Homo sapiens: one gene and its partners. The protein of the gene in region 2 purifies or fractionates together with the protein of the main gene of each other region. This does not show direct contact. Each region holds a gene or a part of one and is shown on either strand. Other genes may lie near its edges.

Region 1 (3,500 bases), on a different chromosome or scaffold from region 2:
CAATGTCCCCCACCACCAGCTGCTCTGAAGGGATGGTCTTCTTCTCGGAATCTCGGATGACGAGAGCTTGCTGCAGAAAAAAACCATGACAGATGCCTCAGACCCTGGAAGGACACCGGCCCTCCCCCAAGTCTGTGCCGCACCGAACCCCAGGACAGAGGCCTTGGAACTTCCTGATCACTCTCACTGTTGAGTCCATGCTGTTATGCAGCCTGCACCTGGCCCTGTGGACACAGCATTGCTGCTGGAGCATGAGGCTGTCAGAACAGCAAGAATGAAACAGAAGACTGCTTCACCCGAGGCCTGAAGACTCTAAGAACTACTTTTTCTTGAGCTTATGGAGAGTTCTTGGAACAGAAGAGTCGCTGTTGGCCAGATCTGGCCAAGCCAGAGCCCTGGGCCTCCTAGAAAAGGAGACCACTAAGGGTGAGCAATCCTGGCTGGGCGTCTGGGCAGAACACTGAAGGTGGGGCTGGGGAGGCTGATAATCTTGCGAGTGTCAGGGAAATTTTAACGAGGTGATCTCCTGCTTCAAGCTTGGCAGGAGGCGTCTTTTCCACCCAGAATCTCTCCAGCCCACAGTTCTCTGGGCCAGAGACAGTGTGGACACCTGACAGGGGTTTTTGGGGAAGAAGGGAGCACTGGGCTTCCCCACCAAATGCATTCTGGGGCTCAGGAGCAAAAATGGTCACAGATAAACAATTGCAGGCTGGTCTCCTTGGCTGCCAGTGAAAGAACACTCCCTGACCTTCCACAGGTCCCTTCCAGAACCCAGAAGGACTATCCACAAACACTGAGGAGCAGGAACAGAAGATGCCTTGGGCTAACCAGCACTGCCCTGGGTGGTGCCTCATTTGACCATCAAAATCCTGTGAGGAACTGGGGTTCTGACAGATGGGTTAATTCGCCCACGATTGCTCCGACAGGGAAGGAAGTGGAAACCCGTAGCCCTCAGGGCCCTGTGCCCCTCCCAGCTGAGGCTTCCTCACCTGGGAGTCACCAGAGGCCAGAGGATAGGTGGCTGCCACTCACCTGAGGGATCATCTTATTGAAGCTGGACATGATGTTGGTGCTTTTTGCCTCTTGGTAATAAGCAAAGATCCCCGTTAAAATGACCACCAGACCAAGCACACAGCCCAAGTACACCTGGGTGAGAAGGAGGGCGTCAGTCAGAGAAACCAGCAGTGGGAAGCAGCCGGGCCCTGGGGCTAGAGCTCTCCACGGGAGGATGCAATGCTGGCAGTTACGCCCTGGTATAATTTACAGGCCATGGAATTCGCCCATGTTAAGTGCGCAACTTATTGATTTTTTTTTTTAAGTTTACAGAGCCATGACACCACCCTCCACCGCAGCCTCAGAGCATCTCCATCCTGCCTGGAGATCCCTCCGGCCCCTCTGCCGTCACTCCCTGCTCCTGTCCCATGCCCTGGCATCACCGATCTGGTTCCTGCTTCCAAGGATGTGCCTGTTCTGCACATTTCATGTCAATCCAATCCTATGACATGTAGCTTGTTGCCTCTGGCTTCTGTCTCTTGGCATCACGTTGGCCAATTCAGTTTTGTGGATTTGGTACTCATGTCTCGGCAGGCACAGCTGCTCTCCGTGTTAAAGGAAGAGGTTAGCTTGGGGGAGACAGAACCCCAAACTACTTCACATGGATGCAGATTTTCTCCCCCTTAAAAATTCAAGGTGTTTTGTGTATCCCTCTTCATGCCCACACTGCCTCTAGAAGATCAGAAAGCCAGATAGAATTTCTGTTTTACAGCTGGGAAAATGCCTGACTTTCCCACACCTAGGCAGTGGCATTCAGCCCCCAGCTGTGCCCCCAAGGCCTCACTGGATGGCTCTGCCAGCAAAACCAGGAGGGGACACCCCAGAGCCTTACGTTGTTCAGGGATGCAGACTTGTCGCTGGAGTACTGAATCCCATATGCAATCCAACAGAGAAAGGCGCCCACCCACAGGAGGATAGAGAACCCCCCCACCATCTGCTTGAGGAACTTGACGATCTCAGGCGTCTGCTTGGGAGGGGTGAGGGAGTTGGGCCCATCCCGGGCCAGGAGCTCGGCAGCTCTGGTGCTGGAGAGACCCTGGGAAAGCCAAACAAAGCACATGCACAACCAAAACAAATACGAATTAGACATTCCTCCTCCCTCAGGGGTTGGGCTGCATATTTTTGCAGCTTGGGGTGAGGCATTAACGTGGCCAAAGAAGGTCCCGAGAAAAGCAGACCGTGCCTCACTTCTCCAGCTGCCCAGCTTTTTTGAAAGACTATGTAATGCTTAATACCAGCCAGGCACTGTGCTCTGTATATTCACTCATTTAGTCTTTAAAATAACCCTTGAGGCAGGGGCCATTATTCCTCCCTCTCGTCATTCGCAGAGGTGGAATTTGAGGCACAGAGAAATTACGTAACCTGTCGAAGGGACCTGGCCTGTCAATGGTAGCGACCAGGTTCAACGTGGTGACTGGGTCCAGAGCCACTGCACTCTGCTCTGCTAAGGGGTTTTAGTTTCTTAGAGGTTTATCCGGTGAGAGGACTAATTTGATGAAGGAGGACTTGGAATGAAGAAGCTGCTCACCAGGGCTAAGGGCAATGCAGTAACTCCCCAGGAAATAGGGAAGCTTCTGGAATCCTGCACAGAGAGCATGTGGCTTTAGTTTCCATCCTTACGCCTGCTCCTTTTCCACCTTTCTACACATCCAGCCTAAGTTCTCATTCATCTTGACAGGCATAAATCCTACCCAAGCCCTGAGCCCATGTGAGCAGCCCCTGCCCTGGGGGGCCTGCCATCCGTGAGGCACCCTCACCTTTGAAACCCTACATGTTCACAGGAATTTCCCCCACAGACGATCTTTGGTGGACAAGTCTGTAGATACCTCTTCTCCCTAATTATGTTGTAAGCTACTTAAAGGGCAGGACTCTGTCTTGGTCTTTTTTTTTTGAGACAGAGTCTCGCTCTGTTGCCCAAGCTGGAGTGCACTGGTGCGATCTCGTCTCACTGCAACCTCCTCCTCCTGGGTTCAAGCGATTCTCCTGCCTCAGCCTCCCAAATAGCTGGGATTACAGGCAGCGGCCACCACACTTGGCTAATTTTTAAAATATTTTTAGTAGAGACAGGGTTTCACCACGTTGGCCAGGCTGGTTTCGAACTCCTGACCTCAAGTGATCTGCCCACCTTGGCCTCCCAAAGTGCTATGATTACAGACCTAAGCCACCATGACAGGCCAGTCTTGGTCATTTTTGTGTTCTCTCCCGGGTCTCATGCTTTTTCTGTGGTAGTGATTCAAATATCTGTTGAATGGCTAGATTCAGGCTCACCACCTCGATCCCATCTCCCTCCACTCCAATTCCTTTTCCAGAACCCCAGACTCATCTTTCTGAATAACTGTGGAACATTTCCTCAGGGGTGTTCCGGAGAGACTTCTCCTGGTATAACTCACAATAAGTTCATCATCGCCTCCACCCTCCTGCCTTCCCTGCTCTCACCTCCCTGCCCC
Region 2 (4,103 bases):
AAAACACAAAAAAATTAGCTAGGCATGGTGGTGTGCCCCCGTAGTCCCAGGTACTCAGGAGGCTGAGGTGGGAGGATTGTTTGAGCCTGGGAGGTCAAGGCTGTAGTGAGCTATGATTGCACCACTGCACTCTGTCCTGGATGACAGAGTGAGCCCATGTCTCAAACAAAAACAAAAACAAAACCCCCAAAACAAAGCCTGGGTCCTAGTTCCTGTAGAATTCTGGACAAGTTACTTCATAGGGCTGTTAGGATTAAATGAGTTAATACCTGGAAAAGTGCTTCCAAGAGTACCTGACACTTAGTCAAGGGCTCTCCAAAGCTAACCGTTATTATCGCCAACAGAGAATGAGCATGGGACAAACTGCTAACAGGTTCACCTTTGGGGAGGGGTCTAGTTATAGAGAGAAGAAAACTTTTTTTTTTTTTTTGAGACACAGTTTCACTCTGTCGTCCAGGCTGGAGTGCAGCGGCGTGATCTCATCTCACTGTAACCTCCGCCTCCTGGGTTCAAGTGATTCTCATGTCTCAGCCTCTCGAGTAGCTGGGATTACAGATGCGTGCCACCACCCCTAATTTTTGTATTTTCAGCAGTGATGGGGTTTCTTCATGTTGGCCAGGCTGGTCTCGAACCCCTGACCTCAGGTGATCTGCCCATCTCGCCCTCCCAAAGTGCTGGGGTTACAGGCATAAGCCACGATGCCTGGCCTAGAAAACTTACTTTTTATTTATCTGTCCTGTTTGATTATGTATGTATTTATTTTTTACAATATATGTATATTACTTTTCTAATTAAAAAAAACCCCTAGTTTAAAATTAAAAAATTAACAAACACAGAAGAATCCTCTGAAAGGTTTAAACATTTCTTGGCATTTCATGTTCCTCAAAGTAGATAAAGAAAAACAGACAATCTCTGCCCTTCTGGAGTTCCCATTCCACCTGATCTTAATTAATTCCCTCTGCAATCCTCAGGGATAATCATTTTACAGATAAGAAGACTGAGGCCGGCCAGTGGGGGGAAGTCACTTGTCCAGTCTCCCACAGCTGGGAGCAGGGCTACAATCTCCAGAGCTAGGGCTGTTTCCACCACTGCCCAGGCCAGGTCTGTGGATGGCATGTTTGAAGCTGGTGTCCCCAGGAGGAGAGAAGCAAGACGAATGAGGAGGTCTGCATGTCCAGGCTCAAAACTTCACTCTACATTATCATTGGCTCCTGTGGTGGGGAGGGCGTGATGGATGCAGGCAAGAGTGGAAACCCAGAACAAGGAGTCCAGCATGAGGGGGGCTCAGGCTCCTCGCTGCCCACTCTCAGACCTGGGTTCGGCGATGGAGGTCCCCATGCACCTCTGCCTAGAGGAGAAGCACAGCTTCAACCTCCCTAGTTGTTCAATCTCAGCTCTAGGGTAGGTAGGAGACCCCTGCCTCTCCTTAACCACCCTCCCAAATTCCCCTGCCAGGGCCTGATTTGAAGGGCAGTGCTGTTTCTTCTAGTCCACTACAGTCACTCCTCCCTGAGACAAGAACCTGAGTTCCCTATGCTGGGGCTAGGCACAGTGTCCTCAGATGCTCTGGTCCTCCCTAGGGCACCCAAGTGTCCCCATCCCCACTGTTGCTGGCCCCGGCAGAGGAGCTGCTCTGGTGGGTGGAACTGATGACTGATGGAACCCCCATGGCCACAGCGGCCAGACCAAAGCAGGAAGTGTGGTCCAGGCTGGGTCAGGCTGGCCCAGGATCTGGCAGCTCCTGGTGACCCTCTCCAGGGAGGTGGCTCTCCTTTCCCAGGACTGCCCGGTCAGGAAGGTGAAGGGAGGCAGAAACAACACAAAGGATTGGAGGGTTCTTGGAGTCTAAGATCCCAGAACACAGATGAACATGGGCCAGAAATGGTCAGCGATTTAGAGACACACCAAAGAGAAACCCTGAGAGACACACGCCGGAGCAGAGACTTTGTGAGAAACGCTCACACAGGGGTGGTGATCAGAGGCAGAGACCCAGAGGAAGGGAGAGACCCATGCAAACGAGGGATCTAGAGGGAAACACACAGCAGGACCTCAACGGATCCACAGATCAGCCTCAGACACACCCCCAGTCCCAGCAAGCCACCGTCCCACAGCGCATCCCCCAACAGGAGGCCACTTGTACAGTGCGGGCGGGCCGGGGACTCGCGCACAGGACGCACTTGGGGACCGGAGGAGCGCCGGGCACAGCAGCGAGAAGCGCACACAAAGAGACAGCCCGGCCAGCGGGAGCAGGCTCCGCCCGACCGCTCCGAGACTCCAGACCACCCCCCGCCCGGGCACACGCACCAGACACACACACAGAGACACACGCAACCCCACCCGCACGCCCTGGGACCGCGCCCCGCCGCGCCCCACCCTGCCCCGACTGCCTGGGCACGCGACGCTTACCAGCTGCAGGCAGCAGAAGGCGACCAGCGTGCAGCGCCCGCTGCACTTGCCCATGGCTCCGGGGGCTGCGCGGGCCGCACGCCGCGGCGCCCTTCTTGCTCCGCGGCCGCCGCCTGCTCGCGCCGCGCGGGCTCCACGTCCTCCCCGCTGGGCGCGCCGGGCGGCGGGGCCGGGCGCCTAGGGCCGGGCCCGGGAGTGTCCGGTCCCCAAGGCTGGGGCCGGCCGCCCGCGCTCCGAGTCCATGGTCCGTCCGTCCGCGCGCTGGCCCCGCCGAGCCGCGCCTCCTTTGTCTAGCGGGCCGTCCGTCAGGCGCGCCTCCTGCCCCGGGGCGGCTGGCGGGGAGCGCGGAGCAAGGAGAGCGAGCCCCGAGCGCGGCGCAGCGCAGAGCAGCACTGCCCAGCTGGGGCAGTCGCCCGGGCTCTCGTCGGCCGCGGCTTCCCGGCCCCACCACGTGGCTCCGCCGCCGCCACCGACAGGGAGGGAGTTGGGGGGAACGGCAGAGGGGTGGGGCGGGGGAGCCGCCGGAGGGGAGGGGAGAGGGATAGGGAGGTGGAGGGTTGGAGAGGCAGGGAGTGAAGTGGAAGAGTGCGTGCGGGCTTAGGGGACAACAGCCCTGAGTCAAATCCAGACTTTGCTGCTCACTCGCTGTGTGACCTTGGGCAAATCACGTCACCTCTCTGGACCTGTTTTCTCATGAACAAAGTAGGAATAATTATGCCTCTTTAGTGTAGATATGAAGATGAAATGCAGTCATGTGAATAAAGCGCTTAGCCCTGTGCCTGGCCTCCTGGCTTGGAACACTTTTTTGTCCACCCTGTCTCTAGGGCTCCAGGGTTCCAACTTGGACTTCTAGTTCTATTTACGTTCCCAGATCTGCTCCTCACCCCAGCCTCTCCCCTGAGTGTCTGGCCACATTTTTCGCCTTCCTTCTTTCCGTCTACTGGCATTTATTGAGCCCTGACTGCATACACACCCCTGGGGGCCCTGCGAGCCAGAGATGAGACCTGCAACACTGTTCCAAATCCCGTAGAGCTGCACCGCCCAGGGAACAGATAGGCTCCCAAGAGCACGCCAGTGAGATGGGTGATGGCAGAGATCTGCCCAGGTGGAGGTAGGGAGCCCCTACCCTGGGCTGCAGTAGGGACAGAGTCAGAAGTTTCCCAGCAGAAGATTGCCTTCTCCAAGCCACCCCCAAAAGCCCTCGAACTGGACACATCTCAAATCCACATAATCATTCCTGTCCCACTCCTAACTTCCTATATTCACCTTGGCAATTAGCATCACCCAAGTGGAATTTCCTAGGTCATCCTCCAGGCTTCCCTACAATTACATCTGATCTGTCACTACATTCTATAAACTGTACTTTCCAACTAACATTTATGAAATACCCACTATGTGCCAGGTTCTCTGCTGGGGATAAGGGAACAAAACCCGACAAAATCTCTGCCCTCATTGAGCACACAGTCTAGTGAGGGATTGTCATTAAAACAAGGAAATATACAAATAAATACGCAAAGTTCTGATGAATACTCTAAAGAATATTAAAGAAGAAACGTGGCACGGTGGCTCACACCTGTAATTTCAGCACTTTGGGAGGCTGAATCAGCTCACTGCAACCTCCACCTGAGTGGAGATCGGCCTCCCAAAAGTGAGTGGATCACCTGAGTTCAGGAGTTCGAGACCAGCCTGGCCAACGT
Region 3 (3,500 bases), on a different chromosome or scaffold from region 2:
AAAGGAACGAAGTACTGCTACATAGTACAACATGGACAAACCTCGAAAACATGCTAAGTAAAAGAAGCCAGTCACAAAAGACCACATATTGTATGATTTCATTTACATGAAATACCCAGAAGAGAGAAATCTGTACTAAAAGGAAGTAGATTAGTGGTTGCCTAGGGGTGTGGCTGGGGAAGTTCAGGGGAAAGGGAGAGTGACTGCTAATGGCTACAGGGTTTCTTAGGGTGGAAGGGTAACGAAAATGCTCTAAAATTGATTGTTATAATGATTGTACAACTCTGTGAATATTCTAGACCAGTGAATCATACATTTTAAATAGGGATCAGTTGGGCGCAGTGGCTCACGCCTGTAATCCTCTACTTTGGGAGGCTGAGGTGGGCAGATCATCTGAGGTCAGAAGTTCGAGACCAGCCTGACCAACATGGAGAAACCCCGTCTCTACTAAAAAATACAAAATTAGCTGGGCGTGGTGGCACATGCCTGTAATCCCAGCTACTCAGGAGGCTGAGGCAGGAGAACCCGGGAGGCGGAGGTTGCAGTGAGCTGAGATTGCACCACCGCACTCCAGCCTGGGTGACAGAGCGAGACTCCGTCTCAAAAAAAAAAAAAAAAAAAATTGGGACCTATGGTATGTGAATCATATCTCAATAAAGTTCTTATTAAAAAAAGAAAGCTCAGCTGGGCACGGTGGCTCACGCCTGTAATCCCAACACTTTGGGAGGCTGAGGCGGGAGGATCACGAGGTCAGGAGATGCAGACCATCCTGGCCAGGATGGTGAAACCCTGTCTCTAGTGAAAATACAAAAATTAGCCAGGCATGGTGGCGGGCGCCTGTAATCCCAGCTACTCGGAGGCTGAGGCAGAGAATTGCTTGAACCTGGGAGGTGGAGTTGCAATGAGCCGAGATCACACCACTGCACTCCAGCCTGGGTGACAGAGCAAAACTCCATCTCAAAAAAAAAAGCTCAAGTAATATTTTTTTTTAGGAAAGTACTTTATATACTTTAAAGATATACTTTATATATCTTAAATAGGACAGCTGGGAGAGTTTCCACAACTTTTGCATATTCCAGTTAGGAAGCCCCCTTCTACCACAGTAACCACATCACTAACTCTAATACAATCCCCTGACCTCTGTCTTTGCCCCTATAGCATTTTATGCTTTCCTCATCAAGGCACTTTTCACAATGTTGAGCAATGGCCTGTTTACTTGTTTCTTGCCCCCACTAGACAATGAGCTCCTTGAGAGCAGGGACATCGTTTGCCTCATTCATTGGTATAACCCTGGCAGCTAGTACAGTGGCTGGCACAGAGTCACTCAATATACACCAAAGAAATGACTAAATCTTAATCTACATCAAGGACACAAAGATCTGAAGGCAACATCAGGGCAGGTGTAGAGGCAGGGAAGCTGGGGTGATTAGAATACAATATTGCCTAATTATATTTCCAAGCTGTAAATTAGCCTCCGCCCTCTCTATATCGACCCAGCCTTAAGTCAGGAACACTTACTGGGCTCTGTGGCAAGAGGCTGCTACTGGTCTCTTGAGTACTGGGAGGTCGACTTCCACTTTCCTCCAGTGGCAAAATACCCCTTCGATCCAGCACACTGAAGGAGATAAGAGAGTTAACAAAGAACTGGGCATTCACCCCTCCACCCACCTGGCCTACGGAATTTTGCTGCATAGACTGGAAAATATAAACCTGTCCTTTGGCAATCTAGCCTGAACACAGCACATGCCTCTTATCTCCCATTCACTTTTTCTTCCACAAACCAGGAAATGTCACATTAACCAGGGAACAAACAAATGAAATTAAGAATGAAAGATCATCCCTCCAAAACAACCAGCCCATGGTCTATGGTCCATGTAGACATGGTACCAAGTGGCAAGCCCTGGAAAGACCTATTTGACACCAAGAGGCCACACTCAGAAAAACACATCAGACAAGGTAACAGGATCAGGTTGAGCTGCTCATCCCAACAGTCCCAGGACTTTTGAGTGCCCTGAGCACCTGGGGGGCAAGGGGCCACACAGCACTTCACAGCAGTTCTTCACAATATTGCCATGGCTGTAGGGATTCTGGACGCGATTCTTCCCTGTCCATGATCCTTTGATCTGCAAGATAAAAACCAAGGCTGACATTAAAAATAATGTTAAAATGAACAAATAATAATAATAAAATTAAAAACAGACACAAAAAAGAAAAATAATAATAATAATGTTGAAGAAACACATGCAGCATGGGATAATAAAAAAGTTCTGGAAATGGATGGTGGCAATGGTTGCACAACAATGTGATGCCACTGAACTGTACATTTAGGATATGAGGGCGATCTGGCTGCAACAACTGTCACCCCATTGATCGCCAGGGTTGAAAGACATTTAATATAGCACACTTTATATCATGTATATTTTATCACAACAAAAAAGAAATACATACACAGCCATGAAAAATACTCACAATAGAGTGAAAAAAGCAGATAACTGAATGATATATACTATTTTTATTTAAAAGTACATAATATAAACACATAAATAAACATGGAAAAAAGTCTAGACAAGTCTAGAATATATAAATCATACTACTAACAAAGGTGATGTCTAAGAAGTAAAGTAAGAGGAACTTACTTTTTTCTTTTTGCTCATCTGTATTTTCTGATTTTCTACAGTGAATGTAGATTAATTGCTAACTTTTTTTTTTTTTTTCCAGACAGAGTCTCATTCTGTTGTCCAGGCTGGAGTGCAGTGGCGTGATCTTTGCTCGCTGCAACCTCCACCTCCCGGGTTCAAGTGATTCTCCTGCCTCAGCCTCCCGAGTAGCTGGGACTACAGGTGCACACTAACACATCCGGCTATATTTTTGTATTTTTAGTAGAGACAGGGTTTTGCCATGTTGGCCAGGCTGGTCTTGAACTCTTGACTTCAGGTGATCCGCCCGCCTCAGCCTCCCAAAGTGCTGGGATTACAGGCGTGAGCCACCACACCCAGCCTAATTGGTAACTTTTTATATAGCAAGGATTCATCCAGTGCAACTGTCCCTCTCCATGCCAAACAGAGGCACCAGCTAGCCTTTAAGGACCTGTGAACAGTTAAAGGCTGTATACCCACCCAACTTTTCAACCTCTTCTTCCTAATGCTCCACAAGCATTCAACAAAGCCCTCTCCTTTCTCTTCCACACATCTGACTTAACAACCTCGCATACCACGTTTCTGCCTGCCTCAACCTCCCAGGCCCTGGAGACTCGGTAGTTCTCTAGCAGGTAGCAAGAGGATAGGCTTTGGGAAGAAGAATATGTGGTGAGGAGAAGAGAAAGTTGACTCACGTCTTCATTGGTTGTCTGGTTGAGAGCCACGAGGAAAGTATGAAATCCAGTCAGTCCCACGACGGACCAGAGTGTAAAGAAGCAAATGAGGACTTCTAGAACAGTGAGGTGTGGTTAAGGAGTATTGAAGAACTCAACATCAGGAGACTTGATGCCTCCGCCCATATTC
Region 4 (3,500 bases), on a different chromosome or scaffold from region 2:
CCATTAATTTAACTTGTATTCTTTGCTAGAGGGTGGCAGAGTTGACAGCTGTTGAAAAAAATGGGCCTATAAGGTGGACTCGCAATTATTAGCTTCAAAGTGAACTAACCCACAATTGTATTCATGATGATCATTAATTTTTATGTGTGCATGAAAGATGGCCCTGCTTTAAGCTGTGTAGAGTTGTTTCCAAGCTGACAAGCTTGGAAGCCTTGTTCATTAATTACTCTAAATTCCTATGGATGGATAAAAGACCTCCAGAGGTCTGAGTTGTTAAAGGCCCCCACTGAAGGAAATACAGACTATACATAAAGGAGTCATTCTGAGTTCAAGGGGCCCTCCCACGGCGTATCAATTCCTCCCAAATATTTTTGGGGGTAAATGAAACATTATAAAGTGAATTTAATCATTTTTGGAAACATTAATTATAAAGCATTTTATATCATTAGGCAAGCATCCCCCTGAATGGCTATGAAATATTTTACCTCTGAAAGTTGAAACATTTAGCTTGAATAAAACTTGACATTAAAAAAGTTATGATTAGACTGGTTCATTGATATATATTTGGAGATCAGACATTTACAAGGACATAAGTGTATACAGTACCTGCAAACACACAGACACAGCACATGAAGGTACAAACACATTTAGTTATTTTCACATAATTCCCAAGAGAACATGCAATGCTAAATTGGCTTGATATTATACAGATGCAATTTTGGAATATTTACTTTTAGTTTTCCAAATGATCTTTATAAATCAAAGTTATATTTCCTGATCAATATTAACAAACATTTTCACATGGTGGCCTTGCCATGACAACTTGCCCCTTACAAATTAAATATGCTGTATCAACATTTGGCTCTGAAAAATGTTTAACATTTTATTTGGGGGGCTTATCATATTTTAATGTTTAATATTTTAAATGCATATTTCCCCATATTCCAAGTAATGCATCTTTATATTTTTGCAAAGAATATTGTAAAGTTCACCACACCAACAGCAGAGAAAATTTAGAGAGTGATATTTTCATTTTTTCTTTATAATGCTGTTAATCCGATTTTTTAAAGCCAGCCCATTTGTTTAACACTAGGTACCTGTTACAATACATTAGATTCGTCTGAGAATGTTCGTAAAAGAAGAGGTCTGACTGAAGGTCTGGCGGATAATGAGTCAGATGCCCTTCTACAGCTCAGATTTCTCTGTAATAGTGAGGCAAAGATACTTAAAGCATTTGAAAATTGGTTAACCTACCTGGTGATTATATATTTAAAAAAAGGTAAAAGAAAAAAATCATTTCCTATAGACTACTCCTCTGGCCAAAAGTACAAATGATTACACTATATAGTAAATGTATAACATTCAAATGAATACATTCAAAGGCCTAAGAAAGTCTCCAACTCGAATTGTTTTTGTGGTAGAAGTAAACAGACAACAGTAGTATGTAGTAAACTTGGGTTTTTGGAATGGCACTGGTAAGTAATATGGTAAGATGAGTCAATATGGTTTGATTAGTAAACCTTACCATCCTTTTGGTGAACACCTCTGAGAGTTGTGCCGGTGCCGTATTATCAAACAAAGAGAAATTTGTGCAAAACATTCCTGTCCTGGTGAACAGACTAGCTCTAACACGCCATGGCCACTGCATACCGTGGATCAATGAAGACTACAGACCCGTAGTCCAAGCTTTTAAAAATTACTTCCTCTCCAGTGTGACAATTTGGAAGGTGAACACATGATTAAAAGAAAATGACAAAATACTCTAAGCATCAATAGAAGATATAAAATGAGTCATGAGAAGTAATTTTTCATAAAGAATTAGAAAATGGTGTCAGGCAAATGAGAATGCAAGCAAGTTGGTACATTAAGAAAGGAAATCACCTTATTCACTCCAAGAGAAACTGTGATTGCTGGAAGTTTGAGAAAGCATGAAGATAGCAGATGTTCCTGAGGAAGGGAGGCGTTTCGTTACCTTGTTCACAATTGCACAAAAGGTGGAAAATTGCAGTAGAAAAAAGAGAAATGCAGAAACCAAAAAAAAAAAAAAAGTAAATAATCTCTCAAATGTAAGACATTTAAAAAGAAAACTTGAGAATTCGAAGCCGAAATGATATGTTAGTTTTGAAGACATTATTTTCTGAAGTAAAAGCAGAGTCAGAGATAGGAATAGTCTATTATTACGTGCCAACTACTATTTCTCTACATATCAATTTGAAATTATTTTGTTAATGGGAAAATTGACTATTTTAAATAAAATAGCTTTAAAATATGCTTCTCGTTAAAATAAGACTTATCTCTAATCATTAATTCACTATCCTACATTTGTTCAAAATCCATTGGTCAAAGAGTTATGTCCAGGGTCCATTGCCAATCACCAATCTATCTTGAAGTAATTATCTCCCCTATGCAACTGTACAGATACACTATGAAGGGACTGACTGCTCTTAAGCAGTTGCAGGATAAAAACTTAATCAAAAATAACAATGGGAAAACATTTGGTGATACCACATTTCAGTCCCATTTGCCTCTGACCAATGCTTAACTTCCTTTCTTACAACCTAATTTGATTGGTTTCCCTGTTTTTCCTACAGAGTCCTCTTTAGAAAGATAGGCTAAATTTTACCTGGGTAAGGTATTATTTTTTTTCCCCTTAAAACACCCAGAAAAGTGAAAATGGATAAAGTTTAACTGGCAAACCTAAGGTTATTTTTTTCCTTCTGATTCTGTGCCTGAAATTATAAGGTAATTTACAGACTCAGTTTTGGCATTGCCCAAGCAAAACAGAAGATGAGTGGTCAACAATGTGGATGACTTGAACAACTCTGCTAATAAAGATTACCCATATTGTCTACTTAGTGACCTAAAATGGGCTTAGAAAAAGAAACCAGCTAAAGTAACATTTGTTTCCAGAAGATTCTAATAAACAATTAAACTTTCAAAGGTAAATAATTTATTCATGTTTTGACAACTACATTTTTTCTTGTTTTTACCTTAAATGAAGAAAGTTGGTGGAATGAAGAAAGTTGATAGACATATTGATAGAATGCAAATTACCAATTGATAAAGCTAGAGAATATTTAGATTCTGAGAAAAAGATTTTAATTGTTTCTATCTTCTATTTTATGGGCAAAAACCCTGCGACAAGATCAGCATGATACCAAGTTCCCCACCCCCGTGTTTAATGCACAAACCTATCTATTCAAGACTGCAACTGTAAGCACGTTTTGGTGTGCTCAAACACTTGTATCCAACCATCGGAGATAAAAGTATTTCTATGAAGCAGAAATATTAGGAGTTAATAGATTAGGTGTTAAAACTACTTTATAAAGGAAATGAAAGTACAGAAAGCAGGAGAAAGCATGGAAAGAGTAACTAAAGCAATAAAAAAATTGATATAGCTAGCAACCGGCAGTGGGGTGGGGTAAACAGGAGATAATGAGCTAAAACAGAATGAAATTTCCACATTCCTTTGCAGTCATCTAGAGAGCTTTGACACCAGC
Region 5 (2,643 bases), on a different chromosome or scaffold from region 2:
CAGCCTGAGTGACAGAGCAAGACTCTGTCTCAAAAAAAAAAAAAAAAAAAAAAAGTAGATAAGGCCTGTTGTGAAAATTAACCAGTATAGTAAGGTGCCTTGCAATGTTACATGTGTCACCTGAGTATTTTCTGACCCTAGACCATGTTAGGACTCCTTGCCAAGTATTTCCCTAAACTTTATAATACCATAAACTCCCAACCTCACTCTTGAAATGTTTGTCCATCTGCCCACCTTGCAGGCTGTCAGCTCTGTGAAAGCAGGGGCTTTCTGACTTTGATCCTGCTCGTATTCCTAGTGCCTGGCATACAGTAGGTACTCACGTTTGTTAAGTCATTAACTAGAAATCCAACACCTCCTAGATATCATATCCTGGTGATATATGCTCTCCAGCAAACAGCTAGTTTGAACAAGGAAGGATGGAAGATAAAGTTTTTAACAACAAGGCATATAGGGCAGACTCACACTAAGGCTAAAAGCACTCACAAAGGCAACTTAAATCATTAAGAAAATATCTTTATTTATTCTGAAATGTTCCAATAATCAATGTAAAAACTGTGGTAGTGGCTCTTTCACAACTTTACAAATTATAGAAAAATGATTTTTCCTCTTCTTTACAGAAATGTCACTCCCAAATCGTACCGGGCCCTATTATGGCTAAAACCCAGCAGGAAGAAGGGAGCAGAGAATACAGCAAGCAGGGCTCCGGCTCTCTGGGTGGCCAGAAGGCTTTTCCTACACATTAAAGCCCAGGCTGAGTCTCAAAGACCTGTGACCCCTCTGAAGGAGGCTCCATCCACATGGATCTGTGGCACACTGGGGCAGGCCTCTGTCTTGAAGGCCAGTAGGCCACAGAAGACCTGAAAGCATGGCACTCGTGGTTGCAGGCCACAGTCAAGGCAGCTTTGTGAGAATGAGAACAGGAGGCGAGCCTATAGCTCAAATCCCTTTCTCTAAAACACAGCCAGAAAAGAGGCTGTGGACACTGGCCAAACAGTGCACTAGGTTTAGAAATTTCCCCTTTTACTCAGCAAAGACTAATTTGTTAAACAGCTATTAAAAAAAAATCAGAAAACAAACATTTGGTTCCATTTCAGCTGTAATCAGCAGTTGGTAATTTTTGGAAAAAGAGCAGTTTTCTCATCTTGAGTTGCTCATTAAGTCTGTATTTTTTATCAGGCCCCTGACTCCTTTCTTTCTCATCCATGGTTTTTTGGGGAGGGGGGCAAGTACAGCTATAGGAGAAGGCTGTTTGTTGATTTGAGAAAACTGTTAAAATGTTTTGCACTCACATACAAAGGCTGATGGAATTCAAAAATGATCCCACTGATTTTTATGAGAAACATGACTGTTCCTCTTGGGTGTCTCAAGTCAAAACAAGGCAACCGCCTAGTGATTTATAGTTCCCACATTTTCCGCCTTCCAGAAGGCATTAGAGAAAGGGCCAACCTCTGCCAGGAGAGATTGTAAACACACCACTGACAGCTTGGACACTTTGTTTTTAAATGCAGCAGGGCTTTTTCCTTTGGCCCTGGCTGAAAAGCCAACTCCCTAGGACAGTTTAAGAAGGAGCAGATGGAAGGACTCCCCTAAAACCTAAGAGTGAGGGACTAGTAGTCCCCGTTGACTGGAGTATGGCTGGGAACATCATCAAAGGCAATGGATACATTTAGGCCATATGAAAATTGTCCTGTGGTCCCCCAACTGGCCCCTAGGCTCAACCTGGCTGGACATGAGGCATAGGAGGTACAGAACAAGTTACCATAAGGCACATAGTTGAGGTAGCCCCCACACCAGGCCCAGAAAGATTATCTTTTCGCACGATTCCAAAAGTGTTGGAAAGCAGAGGAGTTGATGACACTCACTATGAGCAGCAGCAGCAGATACAGGGATATCATGACGGTAAACCAATGGCTGGAAAACCAGGAGAGCTGGCTCGAAGCCCTGCTTAAGAGGGAAAAAAGAGTGGTGTTGGCAAAAAGAGAAAAACATTTTTTTTAAGTGTGTACAACAAGTCTGGCTCTAAGAAGACAAAATGATGAATTTCATCCTTTGCCTGAGCCATGAAATGAAGCTTCGTGCTTCCTTGCTCAAGAAACCTGGGGCTGTTTGCCCAGGCACTGACACGCCTTTCAACAGGATATTTTCTAAATGCGCAAAGACAGCTATGCAATGAGCTCATCCTGATCTTCCCTTTTGTAGCTCCTCTTTTACCATTTACAACCCATCTTGGTATCTATAACAATGACCTAGCTCAGGGTGTCTGCCCAGATGGTGGCAGGTGGCAGGTAATTTAGCTGAAGTCTTTTCACTTTTAGACACATGCAGATATAAATCCAAGCTGGGGAAATCCTCTTTGGCCCACTAGGAGATGATCTAAACCACCCAAGTGTGCACTAAAGAGATGCTCCAGGGAGAAGTGGGAAAGGAATGGAATTTTCAAGGATAAAAAGTTAGATGATTTTAAACCAAAGCATAATGTCACCTGGACCCAGGCACCCTATATACATTTCCCAAATTTGGACAGGGGTCGGGAGGAGACTTTACTGGTTTATGAAGTCTGGAAGCATGGAAACCACTGGTGTGTACAAGCAGGAGTGGGGATTATTTAAAGTGACCCCTTTTCCTGTCATATCTACTTAC
Region 6 (3,500 bases), on a different chromosome or scaffold from region 2:
CAGAAGTCCAAGACCAGCCTGACCAACATGGAGAAACCCCATCTCTACTAAAAATACAAAATTAGCTGGGCGTGGTGGTGCATGACTGTAATCCTAGCTACTCAGGAGGCTGAGGCAGGAGAATTGCTTGAACCTGGGAGGCGGAGGTTGCAGTGAGCCGAAATTGCACCATTGCACTCCAGCCTGGCAACAAAAGTGAAACTCTGTCTCAAAAAAAAAAAAAAGGAACGAAAGAAGAAAGGAAATCTGAGCCAAATTAAGCACCTCCCACCTCCTTATATATAAAGCCAAGAATTGAGACTTTCTCATGGACAATGGAGAGTTATTAGGAATTAAAATGACTTTTTTTTGCTATTTTATAAATAACTTCTAATAAAAGAAGACCACAATAGTTAGTTTCATTAATCTTGTACCTTACTTACTTCTCAATGAAGCTATAATAGGTAAAGTAATAGGTATATGTTCAATTTCTAAACCATTCTCAGTTATTCGGCGTAATCGTCCACGTAGTTTAACATTTCTTCTTATAAATTCTACTGGAATATCCGAAGAGCTTGTAAATTTTGATGTCTATTGATTTACAGGGAGAAAAATATAACCACTTATTATTATTGTCATCTCAAAATTTAAAATGTCAAATTATCAAAACATTTCACAAGAGTACATAACCATGAACATTTTAAAATTTAGTTCCTAATTTTATATTACTTTAATATGATTTAATCAAAAGTGTTTATGGAAACATTATTTACAAATCATTATTCACCATTTTCAAGCCAACCACATAAAGACATTAAACAGACTCCTAACTTCTAAAAGCTTATAACCTCAAAATATGACACAATTCATCAAAAGACATTGAGTATCTATCTATGCCTGGCACCACACAAATCTGGTTAAACAGTCTCTAGCTTGTTCCACATAAGTACAATCTATTCATGCATATACTGACGGGAAAACTTAAACAAAGCTCAGTCAAATTAAGTTAGAACCTTAACCAACCAGGTTTTTTTACTATCATTTTTTTATCTTGTAGGAGAAAAGGCACATTTAAAAAAGAAAAACGAAAAAAAGGCCAACATTAGGACTGTACTACAATCCCTAACACTTAGGTGATATCCTGGAATCAATCAACACTTTATGCCTATTTTTTCCACGTTAACAATACCATAAGCTTTGTTCATAATTATGGCTAGTTAAGAGGCTCACATAACAGAAGGAAAAGCCAGGCACGATGGCTTATGCCTATAATCCCAGCACTTTGGGAGGCTTAGGTTGGAGGGTTACTTGAGGCCAGAAGTTTGAGACCAGCCTGGGCAACAATAGCAAGATACCATCTCCACAAAAAAATGTAAAAATCAGCTGGGCATGGTAACACAGAACAGGAGGGTCACTTGAGCCCAGGAGTTTAAGGTTACAGTGAGCCATAATAGCACCACTACACTCCAGCCTGGGTGACAGAGCGAGAACCTGACTCTGTCAAAAAAAAAAAAAAAAAAAAAAAAAGAATAAATTAGTACCCAACTTCCTATGACAGTAAGGTTGAACTGAAGATTTTTATAACCAAGAATAGTGTAGGAGACAAACCCAGAATGTGGAATATACTATAGAATAAATCACTTGGTTTTCCCAACAAATCAATGGCATTGGAAAAAAAGGGTGGCAAGATACTATAAAATAAATGAGATTTAAGAAATAAATAAAATATATAGACTATTTGAATAGATCATCTATTTTTAAAAATCATAGTGACAATTGGCCGGGCATGGTGGCTCATGCCTGTAATCCTAGCACTTTTGGAGGCCGAGGCGGGAGGATCACCTGAGGTCAGGAGTTCGAGACCAGCCTCAACATGGAGAAACCTCATCTCTACTAAAAATACAAAATTAGTCGGGCGTGGTGGTGCATGCCTGTAATCCCAGCTACTTGGGAGGCTGAGGCAGGAGAACTGCTTGAGCCTGGGAGGCGGAGGTTGCAGTGAGCCAAGATCGCACCATTGCACTCCAGCCTGGGCAACAAGAGCGAAACTCTGTCTAAAAAAAAAATTAAAAAAAAAATCATAGTGACAATCAAGATCTGAATACAGACTGGGTATTAGATGATTCTAAGAGATTATTGTTAATTTTATTAGCTGTGATAATATTAAAGGACAAACTAACATTACAGATCTTTTTTTTTTTTAGACAGGGTCTCGCTCTGTGGCCCAGGCTGCAGCTCAGTGGCATAATCCTGGCTCACTGTAGCCTCGACCTCCTGGGCTCAAGTAATCCTCCGGCCTCAGCCCCCCAAGTAGGACTACAGGTGTGCACCACTACACCTGGTTAATTTTTAAATTTTTTGTATAGATGGGGTCTTTATTTGTCACCCAGGCTGATCTCAAATTCCTGGGCTCAAACAATCCTCCTGCCTCATGAATTTTGATGTCATAAACTAGGAAGTACATATCATCACCTTCTTGCCAAAATGCTTAGGCTGAATCTCACAAGGCAAGAAACAAATTCAGATTATAGAACATATTACAAGACAACTGGCTTGGACTCTAAAAATGTCAGCATCATGAAAGAAAAAAATTGTTTTTAAGTAGGGGTAATGGCCAGATGCGATGGTTCATACCTGTAATCCCAGCATTTTGGGAGGCCGAGGAGGACAGATCATGAGGTCAATAGATGGAGACCATCCTGGCCAACATGGTGAAACTCCATTTCTACTAAAAATACAAAAATTAGCTGGGCATGGTGGTGCGTACTTGTAGTCCCAGCTACACAGGAGGCTCAGGCAGGAGAATCGCTTGAACCTGGGAGGTGGAGGTTGCAGTGAGCTGAGATCGTGCCACTGCACTCCAGCCTGAGTGAAACTCCATTTCAAAAAAAAAAAAAAAAAAAAAACAAGTAGGGGTAATATTCTTGATTAAAGGAGTCTAATGAGACATAACAAGTAAATATAATGCATGATCCTTGTTTGAATGTTGGATTGGGAAAAAAACAATAAAGGACCTTTTTTAGAAAATACATCTGAATATGAACTTTATTTTATGTAAGATTGGTGCAGAAATGTTAAATTTATTAGATGTGCTAATATTAATGTGGGTATGTAGGAAAAATCCTTGCTCTTAGGAAGTACGCTATGAAGTATTTATGGATGATGTCTCATGATGTCTGCAACTTGCTTTGAATTGGTTTCACAAAGGAAGAGAGAATACAACTGTAGCAAAATGTTAACAACTGGTGAATCTAGGTGAAAGGAAAATGAATGTGACAAAATTTTTTAGGAGAAAAAGTTGGGAGGAAAAAGATTCTGGATCTACTGTCAATATTCACTCAAGAATGTGAAATATGCAGAATATAAATGAAAGAGAGGAGAAATGCTAAATCAAACCACAAAGAATTTGAATCACAGGACAAAGTTGCTTATGACAAGTTTATGGGAAAAACAGAGAAATACAGATTAAATATGCACATAGTCAGATGGTTCCCAACATGGTTTACTGAAAACACTAAGGG
Region 7 (3,500 bases), on a different chromosome or scaffold from region 2:
CAGGCTGGTCTTGAACTCCTGACCTCAAGTGATCCGCCCACCTCGGCTTCCCAAAGTGCTTACGGGCATGGATTACAGGCATGATCCACCGCACCTGGCCCCTAACACATTTCTTAAAACTCTGTGAAATAGGTAACAATATCCCATTTTAAAGGTAAGGGAATGAGGCACAGAGAGGCCAAGTAACTTCCCCAAGATCACACAGCTGTTAGTGGCTAGTGTGAGACTTGAACCCAGGACAATCAGATTCCAAATCCTGTGTCCTAATCCTACTATCTATCTACTGCATTCCATACTTTGTAGTGCATTCCAGGTTTCCAAGATTCCTACTCACTCTACTGAGTCAAGCTCTCAAGCCCAACCTCAGAGCCCTGGCTTGAGAGTCATCAGTTCTACTGATACAAAGGATGTCCCCTAATTGGAGATGGGGTCCACCATGCCTGGCCACCCCTCAAGGTGTAACTCCCTCTGACACTCAGCCCTGCCAGGCCCTAGGCCTAGGGCCCCACCCTAGGAATGTTCAGCCCCCAATCATCATCAGCGGCACTGGCTAGAGAGCAAGTCTAAGGGAAGCTGGCCTCAGTGTTTCTGGAAACTCAGGAATTAACCTGGAGCTTGCGGCTCCACCCCAGAGTTGGATGGGGCAGGGCTCTGGTTTAAGGAGAAGGGAGAGAAACAGCAGAAGCACTTCCTGGAAGCCAGAGGTTCTGGGCTCTAACTTGAACTAGAACTAGTCCTGCAAAATTGGGCAGGTCACTTAAACTTTGGGACCTCAGTTTCCTCTTGGGTAAAACTGAGGGGGAGGCCTGGCTCACCCCTAGCCATTTCCAGCTCCAGCCTCTGGGATGGGCCTCCTAGCTTCCCTTCCCAGTCCAGCTCACAGGCCCAGGATCAACTAGGCTGAGCTCCCCCTCCCAGCAGCAGGGGTGAAGAGAGGGGCACACTATCTCCCTTGGGGGTTTCTAAGAATAGCCCCCAGTGGGGGAGAAGGGAAGGGGGGCAAACCAGGCAACTTCCCTTCCTGGCCCCAGGAGCCCAAGAGGAAAATGTGAGTCACGGTGGAGGGAAGGGGAAGGGGGACGAGACTGAAATAACTCTGTACACACACATCCCTATCTGACTATGAGAAAAAATGGATGCCAGGGGACCGGAGGAGACTCCAAGCTGGGCCTGGGTCACTGGGTGACACTGTTCAGTATGTCTAAATGAGTGGGTCGGTAGGGGACAAAGTCTCCTTCCTGTGATTGTGAGTAGGGGTGGATCTGGGAAGGGGCTGCCCAAGTAGACGAGGAAGGAGGCCACAAACCCCACCTGTCTAGAAACCCACATACCCAAATGGGCACAGGGAATGTTTCTCAGCCCAGAGGAAGTTGTATGGGCAGCTCTGGCCCCAAGGACTGGCACAGGGGCAGCAGTGAATTTCGCCACTGCCCCAAGAATGTGCCTATCGAGATCCACTACATGAAGCTGTAGCCAGACACTCCTGGGGAGACGGGCACAGTCCTGGCCTCCCTGGGACTGCACCTCCCCAGTCAGGCACTGGGCCTGGCTCTGGGCACCATGCCAGTCGAGAGCAGGGAACAGATGCCCACCCAGCCCATGCCTGGCCAGAGAGGAAGGGGGAAAGGAGACACCACCTCTAAGCTCCTTCCCCAGGAGGGCAGTCCAGCCATAAAGCCCTGGTTGAGAGCCACCCTGGAAGAGAAGCTTTGGGGCAGAAGGACCTGGCCCTTTAAGATGTCTGACAGTGCCCTAAGGGCACGTGCTCCACAAACAAACGGGCTATAAAGTTACTTTTAAAAAGGTACGTTCTGGCATTCTGGCATTCTGGCCAGGTGCGGTGGCTCACGCTTGTAATCCCAGCACTTTGGGAGGCCAAGGCGGGTGGATCATGAGGTCAAGAGATCGAGACCATCCTGGCCAACATGGTGAAACTTGTCTCTACTAAAAATACAAAAATTAGCTGGGCATGGTGGCGCGCTCCTGTAGTCCCAGCTACTCAGGAGGCCGAGGCAGGAGAATCGCTTGAACCTGGGAGGCAGAGGTTGCAGTGAGCTGAGATCGCGCCACTGCACCACTCCAGCCTAACGACAGAGCAAGACTCCGTCTCAAAAAAAAAAAAAAACCACAAAAAAAACAGGTAAGTTCTGTTCTGCAGCACAGGCTGGGTGGAGAAGGGCATCATGCCAGAGAACCTAGCTTCTCACCCTGGGATCCCCAGGCAACTTCCTCTCTGTGCCTGAGGCAGGGTGGGCAACAGGCCACAAGCCTTCAAAACCTTGAGCAAGACAGCACTCTCTAGTTAGGGTCCAGTGGAGGACCCAGGCGCTGTGCTGATGGCGGGGCTGTGCCTACAGCAGCGCCTGAAGGACCCTGGCCTCTGCTCCCTGGGCAGGGGGGTAACAGGAGATGGCAGATCCACAAACTAACATCTCTCTGAAAGGGACTTCCCAGAAACCCCTTCACTGGGTACCATGCCTTCCAGCACTCCCCAAACCTCCCTGCCCCCAGGTGTGAACACTGCCCAGTCGGGTTCTACTCCACTCTAGGAAAGGGTGGGGCCCCAACAGCAACATGAGCTAGATGCTATTTTTATTCCAGCTTTGCAGACTGGGAAACTAAGGCTGGGAGAGGTGAGGCTAGTTGTCTAAGATCCCACAGAAAAGAATACAGCCCACTGGATAAGCAGGTCAGCCTACAGCCACTCCACACGGAGCCGTGGAGTCCCACCTCACACACACTTGGAGCCTGGAGGCAGCAACAGGCATGGACAGAGAACCTCAAGGAAAGGCGCCCAGGTCCCTGGTGCCCAGCATGGGGAAGGTGGGATACGATCAGACTTAACGCTCCTCTCTTCAACAGTCCAACCCCATTCAAACCACATCCAGCCCAGAGAGAACTGACCCCAGCTCTTCACCTTCCCTGTCCTCCCAGAAGTGGCCTTGGTCCAGGAAAGAGGGGACTCCTCTCTTGCTGACAACATCCAAAACCTGCTCTATACCTCCAGATCACCACCTAGAGCTGCTCTTCAGGGATAGCACCAGCGCCTCAGTCTCTGGTGTCAACTTGCCTGCTGAGATGCTAAGGCCTGGACACAGCCTGCACTGCCTTTTCAGCCCCACGGTGGCCCTGGGGCTATATACCACACCCCTGCCTCCAGCCCCACATTCTGTCTCTACAGACTGCACTATTTCAGCGGGCTAAAGAGCCGGAGACTGGGGCCCATGGTGACAGAGTTCAGGCTTGGGTCCTGGGGCCCTCCCTCCCCTCAGCAGTGTCCTCTACCCCAGATCCCACATGGAGGCAGACCCCTCAACCCTAGCCTCCCACCTCCTGCTCCTCCTCCCAGATACAGCCAGACATCCCTGCACCCAGCTTCCACCCATGACTCACCCGCCCTTCCTCACTAAGCCCCCACCTGCTTATGAGGTGAGAAATTCCCCACCTGCTGCCCTCCATCCCTACCTCCCTGGCCACCTACCTGCTTCCAGAGGAAGGCA

What was found.
Region 1: the proteins of NKAIN1 (region 2) and ATP12A purify together in Homo sapiens (affinity purification with mass spectrometry; one large-scale study listed by BioGRID and IntAct). This does not show direct contact.
Region 3: the proteins of NKAIN1 (region 2) and ZDHHC9 purify together in Homo sapiens (affinity purification with mass spectrometry; one large-scale study listed by BioGRID and IntAct). This does not show direct contact.
Region 4: the proteins of NKAIN1 (region 2) and ATP11C purify together in Homo sapiens (affinity purification with mass spectrometry; one large-scale study listed by BioGRID and IntAct). This does not show direct contact.
Region 5: the proteins of NKAIN1 (region 2) and PARP16 purify together in Homo sapiens (affinity purification with mass spectrometry; one large-scale study listed by BioGRID and IntAct). This does not show direct contact.
Region 6: the proteins of NKAIN1 (region 2) and C3orf33 purify together in Homo sapiens (affinity purification with mass spectrometry; one large-scale study listed by BioGRID and IntAct). This does not show direct contact.
Region 7: the proteins of NKAIN1 (region 2) and ADCY6 purify together in Homo sapiens (affinity purification with mass spectrometry; one large-scale study listed by BioGRID and IntAct). This does not show direct contact.

Annotation. Positions count from the first base shown.
Region 1 is NC_000013.11:24,686,908-24,690,407, reverse strand, and holds part of ATP12A (potassium-transporting ATPase alpha chain 2), read right to left. Parts: intron 2,090-3,500; coding exon 1,886-2,089; intron 1,147-1,885; coding exon 1,033-1,146; intron 71-1,032; coding exon 1-70. UniProt on the Homo sapiens protein: The catalytic subunit of a H(+)/K(+) ATPase and/or Na(+)/K(+) ATPase pump which transports K(+) ions in exchange for Na(+) and/or H(+) ions across the apical membrane of epithelial cells.
Region 2 is NC_000001.11:31,237,088-31,241,190, forward strand, and holds the start of NKAIN1 (sodium/potassium-transporting ATPase subunit beta-1-interacting protein 1 precursor), read right to left. Parts: upstream 2,801-4,103; 5' UTR 2,461-2,800; coding exon 2,407-2,460; intron 1-2,406.
Region 3 is NC_000023.11:129,809,387-129,812,886, forward strand, and holds part of ZDHHC9 (palmitoyltransferase ZDHHC9), read right to left. Parts: exon of another isoform or gene 3,435-3,500; coding exon 3,332-3,434; intron 2,124-3,331; coding exon 2,020-2,123; intron 1,616-2,019; coding exon 1,519-1,615; intron 1-1,518. UniProt on the Homo sapiens protein: Palmitoyltransferase that catalyzes the addition of palmitate onto various protein substrates, such as ADRB2, GSDMD, HRAS, NRAS and CGAS. The ZDHHC9-GOLGA7 complex is a palmitoyltransferase specific for HRAS and NRAS.
Region 4 is NC_000023.11:139,730,554-139,734,053, forward strand, and holds part of ATP11C (phospholipid-transporting ATPase IG), read right to left. Parts: intron 1,973-3,500; coding exon of another isoform or gene 1,883-1,972; exon of another isoform or gene 1,882-1,882; intron 1,203-1,881; coding exon 1,101-1,202; 3' UTR 1,098-1,100; intron 1-1,097. UniProt on the Homo sapiens protein: Catalytic component of a P4-ATPase flippase complex which catalyzes the hydrolysis of ATP coupled to the transport of aminophospholipids, phosphatidylserines (PS) and phosphatidylethanolamines (PE), from the outer to the inner leaflet of the plasma membrane.
Region 5 is NC_000015.10:65,257,599-65,260,241, forward strand, and holds the end of PARP16 (protein mono-ADP-ribosyltransferase PARP16), read right to left. Parts: intron 1,948-2,643; coding exon of another isoform or gene 1,945-1,947; coding exon 1,809-1,944; 3' UTR 501-1,808; downstream 1-500. UniProt on the Homo sapiens protein: Intracellular mono-ADP-ribosyltransferase that plays a role in different processes, such as protein translation and unfolded protein response (UPR), through the mono-ADP-ribosylation of proteins involved in those processes.
Region 6 is NC_000003.12:155,775,279-155,778,778, forward strand, and holds part of C3orf33 (protein C3orf33), read right to left. Parts: intron 571-3,500; coding exon 423-570; intron 1-422.
Region 7 is NC_000012.12:48,779,090-48,782,589, forward strand, and holds part of ADCY6 (adenylate cyclase type 6), read right to left. Parts: coding exon 3,482-3,500; intron 1-3,481. UniProt on the Homo sapiens protein: Catalyzes the formation of the signaling molecule cAMP downstream of G protein-coupled receptors. Functions in signaling cascades downstream of beta-adrenergic receptors in the heart and in vascular smooth muscle cells.